Linked DNA regions of Homo sapiens. The protein of the gene in region 1 purifies or fractionates together with the protein of each later gene. This does not show direct contact. Each region holds a gene or a part of one and is shown on either strand. Other genes may lie near its edges. The genes, in order: CUX1 and GRHL1.

What was found.
Region 2: the proteins of CUX1 (region 1) and GRHL1 purify together in Homo sapiens (co-immunoprecipitation; one large-scale study listed by IntAct). This does not show direct contact.

What each region holds. Positions count from the first base shown.
Region 1 is NC_000007.14:102,191,595-102,195,422, forward strand, and holds part of CUX1 (Homeobox protein cut-like 1), read left to right. Parts: intron 1-2,247; coding exon 2,248-2,296; intron 2,297-2,481; exon of another isoform or gene 2,482-2,611; intron 2,612-3,828. UniProt on the Homo sapiens protein: May be involved in intra-Golgi retrograde transport.
Region 2 is NC_000002.12:9,996,448-9,999,817, forward strand, and holds part of GRHL1 (grainyhead-like protein 1 homolog), read left to right. Parts: intron 1-2,517; coding exon 2,518-2,582; intron 2,583-3,370. UniProt on the Homo sapiens protein: Transcription factor involved in epithelial development. Binds directly to the consensus DNA sequence 5'-AACCGGTT-3'.

The DNA.
Region 1 (3,828 bases):
CTCTTCCAAAAAGAAAAAGAAATTGGGCCTTTTAATTTTGAGCCAGAGAAACTGCTGCGAAGGCCTTTGCCCAGCCTCACCCTGGGAGTTAGTCGTCGTCTTCATTGTCGTCTTCGTTGTCTTCTTCTTTCTTCCTCTCTTCTTCTTTCTTCCTCCTCCTCTTCTTCTTTCTTCCTCTTCCTCTTCTTCTTCCTCTTGCTCCTCCTCCTCCTCCTCTTCTCCCCCAACCCCCACGTTCACTTCATCCCCTGGGAGCTGAGGCTTCCAGGCTCCAGCCTGCAACACATACCGTTCTACTCCCTCTCATCCACAGCCTGCCGGACCACAGGCTGCCCCTACCCCCACTGAAGGGCTGCCACACCAGCCCCGCTTGTCACTGCATTTCTGCTAACTCTTTCTGTTGCGTCCGCACATGACAGGCCCCACCACCATGTGCACATCTGGAAGCCCCACTCAGGTGGCTTCTTTGCCCAAATGCGCTCCTAGTTTTCCACTTCCTGGTGAACCAGCTGTGCTCTTGAGCTCTTGCCCGCGTCCCCTTCTCAGCATCGTCCCATTTCCACTTCCTCACCCCCACGCAACAGGGGATGCTGACCTCAGATCCTCATGCACTGCAGCACAAGACACCCTGTCCCTTCAGGGCCCTTCTCCAATGCTTGTTCATCATGACACTGAGACGTGGTCTCCAATCCATCAAGATCCCTCCTGCTGGGGTCCTCACAAGTTCTGTCTTAATGGACCACTTGGAGTCTTGCCTATTACCTGTAATGGCCTGTAAATTTCCTGGAGTACGGACCAGGAGTGGTTCTGATTCCCCACGGCAACAAGCGGATAGCAGGCTGCTGGTAAAGATCTGTAGAATAGATAAAGAGCCACGTGGTCTTTTATTACATAATCCTAAAGAAAATAGGAAACGAAGGACAGGATTCCATCTTAAGAAACCCCTTTCAGCTGGGCGCAGTGGCTCACATCTGTAATCCCAGCACTTTGGGAGGCCGACAGATCACCTGAGGTCAGGAAACCAGCTTGGCCAAAACCGTCTCTACTAAAAATAAATTATCCAGGTGTGGTGGCTCACACTAGGGGGACAGAGGCCGAAATTGTGGCTGCAGGAACATGGCGAAGGTCCGGTTGACTCTGCACCTGCGAGTCGTAAATCTCACGGTCCAGCCAGCCTGCTCTGGGTCTCTCTCTTCCATCCTTGGTATTTCAAAGAAACACTTGCAGCTCCTTCAAAGCCACATAGCCTCACTTCCCCTCTTCTCCCTGGTAAACTCAGCAAAAAAGGGACATCCACAGCAAAAGGAACTCAAGAAACAGTAATAATCCTGGGGACCTGGACTCACTGAGACAGCCCAGAGACCGTAGTGATCAGGGTGCGGCCCTTTTCAGTGCCATTGAGAACAAGGGAGGGAGAAGTCACCTTCTCTTGCCACATCTTTGTCATTGCACTCCTTCCCCAACCTGGGGCTGCAGAGAAGGTCTGCCCACCTGGCTTCTGAGTCATCCAAGTCTAGGAGGTTGCTCTTTGCCTATGTCCCCTGGTCCCCAGGTAGGTGCCAGTTAGGAGTGAGGTGTGGGCAGTGGCCGCCCTGGTGGGTTCCCCTCTCTCTGGCTTCTCCTTACAACTTTTTCCTTCCCTTTAAGCTTTACAAATACATTCCACTTGCAACAATGTTATGTCTGTATTAAACTTTAAAATTATACTCTGAACAGACCTGGTGTGATTCCATATGGAATGATTTACATGCTAGGCAAGAAACTTTTGCCAGCCAACTGCTAGTTGAATAGTTATTCTAGAGACATTATCAGATTCTATTACTGCCAGGGAAGTTGTTAAAGTTGACAGTTCTTCGGTTCCTGGAGAGCAGGAAATTGTAATGTTAATGCTTATTAATGTGGCTGTTGTCAAAGGTATAAGTAGAAAATAATCACTCTGGTGGCTCATGCCTGTAATACCAACACTTTGGGAGGCTGAGGCGGGTGGATCACTTGAGGTCAGGAGTTCGAGACTAGCCTGGCCAACGTGGTGAAACCCCGTCTCTACTAGAAATACAAAAATTAGCTGGGCATGATGGCACATGCCTGTAATCCCAGCTACTCGGGAGGCTGAGGTAGGAGAATCGCTTGAACCTGGGCAGAGGTTGCAGTGAGCCAATATCGCGCCACTGCACTCTAGCCTGGGTGACAGAACGAGACTCTGTCTCAAAAAATAAATAAAATAACCCCTCTGTTGTGCTCTTGCAGCATTCTGAAGTCCATGGAGTTTGCACCGTCCGAGGGCGCTGGGACACAGGTACGTGTCTCACCTCAATGGTCAGCACTAGCATCAGCCCCGCTGCTGGTTACCACTGGTCCCTCCGGCATATCCCATGATCCACTGTTTCTACGAGACCTCTCACTTACAGCCGATGAGTCATACTTCAAGAACATTTAACCAAGTTGAAGCAAATTATCTTTTTTTTTTTGTCTCCTTTTTTTCCATGTGTCCAAGGCATGAACCAGGCATAGATCAAAAGCCAAGCTGGGGATGAACAAGGGATTGCTTCATCCCTGACTGATAGGAGATGGGCACTACCAAAAAGCAAATTATCTTTAACAAAAAGAGGCAAAAAGAGAAAAGCTAGTGTTTTCCAAACTGGTAACTGAAGTGAAATTGTGATTTCACTTCAGCAGGTACTAAGAACATAAATAAAAAACAATTTCAGATTGTGTTTAAGAAGGCCAGGCTCAGTAGCTCATGCCTGTAATCCCAGCACTTTGGGAGGCCAAGACAGGAGGATCGCTTTGAGGCCAGGAATTTGAGACCAGCCTGGGCAATATAGCAAGACCATGTTGCTATTAAAAAAAAAAAAAATAGCCAAGTACTGTGACATATACCCGTGGTCCCAGCTACTTGGGAGGCTGAGGCAGGAAGATCGCTTGAGCCCAGTAGTTCAAGGCTATAGTGAGCTATGATCGCACCACTGCACTCCAGCCTGGACAACAGATTGAGACTGACTATTTTTTTTTTAATTGCATTAAAGAGCAGCCAAAAATGGATTGGTTTAGGAACTTTAGTTACATGCTGCCTCAGTAGAGAAGGTACAAGGGAAGGATGACTGTGGCCCAGGGTCATCTGGTGGCCAATTAAAATTGACATCCCAGACCAAGCATGGTGGCTCACTCCTGTAATCCCAGCACTTTGGGAGGCTGAGGTAGGTGGATCACTTGAGGTCAGGCATTTGAGACCAGCCTGGCCAATATGGTGAAACCCTATCTCTGCCAAAAATATAAAAAATTAGCTGAGCGTGGTGGCGCACGTCTGTAATCCCAGCTACTTGGGAGGCTGAGGAAGGAGAATCACTTGAACCCAGGAGCCAGAGGGTACAGTGAGCCAAGATCATGCCACTGCACTCCAGCCTGGGCGACAGAGTGAGACTCCATCTCAAAAAATTAAAAAATCAAATCAAATAAAATTGACATCCTAAGTGGAATCTGACTCCTGATGCCCAGAAGACAGCCAACATCTTTGTGGCTGGCAAAAAAAAAAAAAAAAGAAAAGTTCCCTTTACAGTAACGTTCGGACAGACGTTTGTGGCTTGGCAGCCAGTCTTATGGCCAAATGAGGCACGGGCTCAGGTCGCTTGAGTTTGAGAACAGATGAGAGAATAATTAATTTTTTTAGGAGCTGTGGAAGTCTAAGAAGGAAAATGACTTCAACTAGAATCCATTCTTTCTAAAGGGAACTTGTTTTCCACGTGTGTTAAACGACTTGGGGGGAAATCAGCTGTCCGCAGCCCACTTCCTAATCAGATCGAGAGCTGGGTGGGAACGCGGACAGATGGA
Region 2 (3,370 bases), on another chromosome or scaffold:
AGTACATAGGATTTCATTGAAACACTTTATCAGATGATCCAAATCCTTTGTCAGACCTTCTGGAATCCCTGACACCTTTCTCGAGTCGTCGTGCGTCCCACATTTTATCCTCACCCAGGGGTCTTAACTCACACAGTCACTCAGTCACACCTGTTCCACTGAAGTGAATGCATCTGTGATGGCCTATGAAATGTTTAATTTTTATATACGTGGTTAAAGGGAGATTGCCATTTAGCAAGCCACTTAGAAGCTAACAAAAGTGATTTTTAATCAAGTACAATCTTAAAAACTTCATACATAAAAACAGTGGCTCCTCAGTCTACCTTTAAAACTCCCAATCCTAGGAAATTACTGAACTTGCATCAAGACCTCACTACAGCCTATTGCAGAGAAAGTAGACGTGTAACCAGTGATGGCCGTAAGTCCATCTTACGAGGATCTCAGCACGAGGCTGGAATAAACTGACCCCATGCTCCCTGTGGGGATATCAGTAAGAGAGGAAACATGGAAGGCTGCTGTGTTAATTTCCCGTTCCAGCTGTGCACTGGAAAAACGCATGTCATCAGCACTGAGTGCAGATATTTACCAGCCTGTCTCCTAGAGACCGTAGAGATCTTTAAGCTCAAAGTGTGTCCATAATTGGGCTAAAAGCATCTCCCCCAGCTCCCTCTGATGACTGTAGTGTGTTGAATTCATTTAACACATCTTGATAAAGGGCTTGCTTCATGCCAGGCACTGTGGCGGGCACTGGAGTTATGCGCGTCAGTGACACAGTGCTGAATGGAGTTTATTTTGTAGTTAGGAAGACACAGACACCAAAATAAGCAAAGAAGTTGAGGTCATTTTTCAGGTACTGATGAGTGCCATGAAGATTAATAAAGCAGGGAGATGGGGCGTGGGTTTGGGGAGCTGCTGTGCGGTCTCTCAGCCAGGCGCCCCAAGTCCACGGGTGTCACTCAGTGCATCCCTGCCTGCCCACAGCACAGGCAGCGCCGTTCCCACTGTCACTTCCTGCCTCCTAGGATGTCCCCTGGGTTTCTCTTTTCTTGCCTTTTGATGACCCTTCATCATGTCTTAAGAATCATGCAAACTGGCCAGGTGCGGTGGCTCACACCTGTAATCCCAGCACTTTGGGAGGCAGAGGCAGGAGGATCACCTGAGGTCAGGAGTTCGAGACCAGCCTGGCCAACATGGAGAAACCCTGTCTCTACTAAAAATACAAAAAATTAGCCAGGCTTGGTGGCAGGCGCCTGTAATCCCAGCTACTCGGGAGGCTGAGGCAGGAGAATCACTTGAACCAGGGAGGTGGAGGTTGTAGTGAGCTGAGATCCCGCCACTGTACTCCAGCCTGGCATAGCAAGACTCCGTCTCAAAAAAAAAAAAACAACAAAAAACAAACAAACAAAAAACATGCAAATTCTGATTACAGGGAAAGAGGAGAGTAAAGAGGATGCAGAATTACTGGGCCAGCATAACTGTTCATGGCTCACGAGGAACTCATGACAGGTCTTACATGTCAGAACACAAAGTATTATCATCCACTCGTACAGAAAAGAAAAAGGGTTTGTGTGGTGAGAACTTGGAGCTGGGGTCTGGTCTGAAACACGTGTTTGGAAGGTTGGCAGGATCTGCACGTTTGCCACCTGAGGCTCTGTTTCTCAGTGCCACCTTGAGCTTTGCTCTGTGGCTTGAGGTGAAGCTGGTGATGCCAGCCTGAGGATGGTCTGGATGACAAGTGTAACGTTTGATCTAGAGTGAATCAGCTGTTTGTCCTTGGAGCAATTCACCCATTCTCTTTAAAAATATTAAAAATAGCCTCTATGTCCCGAAAGGAAGACAGCCACAGCTCCCCAGAAGCTCATTACAGTGAGGGGCAGCCGGGCTGAGGAGAGCTGGAGGCCCCCAGCACACGAGCTGGGGCTTTTCCATGTCTTTGTGTCTGCGTTTTTGAAAAACAAAAAGTCGAGTGACTATGCATGTGTGTGTGTGTGTGTGTGTGTGTATATATATACATATATATACGTATATATATACATATATATACGTATATATACATATATATACGTATATATATACATATATATACGTATATATACATATGTATATATGTGTGTACATGTATATATATACATATGTACATATATATGTACACATATATATATACATATATATGTACACATATACATATATATGTACACATATACATATACATATATATGTACACATATATATACATATATATGTACACACATATATATACATATATATGTACACACATATATACGTATATATGTACACACATATATACGTATATATATGTACACACATATATACGTATATATATGTACACACATATATATACGTATATATATGTACACATATATATATACGTATATATATGTACACATATATATACGTATATATATGTACACATATATATACATATATATATATTTGTTGTTTGGTTTCTAAAGCCTTGATACAGGGTTTTGTAATTATTTTTCTTTCCTCTTTTAGATCTCAGACAAATACGATGTTCCCCATGACAAGATTGGGAAAATATTCAAGAAGTGTAAAAAGGGGTAAGCAGCCACTGCGTCCTGTGTACCTCGGAAAGTGCTGATGCCCCCCGCAGTGCTAGTGTGACGCACCCCCCAGTGCTGTTGACACCCCCCAGCACCATGTAACACACCGTGCATGCTAGTGACACCCTCCTGTGCCAGTGACACACACCCTGTGCCAGTGTGACACGTGTGCATCGTGCCCAGTCCAGAAGCAGCCAAAGAAACCTGGGTGCTGGAATGTGGCTTTTCTAAATTATATACGAAATTACTTAGATAAAATTGATCTGCCTTGAGGAGATCTTTGTGTATTGTTTCTCCAAGTCACCTTCTTTGCCCTCCACATGCCTGGCAGCAGTGCCATGGCTCCACACTCCAGGGTGTGTGGCCAGCGCCACTGAGGATGGCCAGGGCAGCACCTCCGTGTGTCGAGCCCGTTGGAGCCGGGCACTGGGTTGGGCACGTCCCACGGTGCTGCGCTTGGTCTTCACGTCTTCTTTCTGAGCTGGTCTCAGGGCTTGTTTATATTTATAGACAGGCGGCTGAGGCTCAGAGTTCAAGAGGCTTTTCGGGGCCATGGTTGGTATTCCCTGCCTCTGCAGCCCATGCCCTGCTCTACCCTCCTGCTCAGGATCCTATTTCCAAGTTATGTCACGTTGCTGCTTTGTCTAGAAATTAGTATTTTTAGTTCTTTTTTGTCTGTCTATGATGTTTGGCATGGATAAGCAGTGGCTAGCATAAGAATTTTTTGGCTTAGTTTTAAAACAAATTCTAATGGGAAATTTCTAGATGGTTCTAGTGGAAAGAGT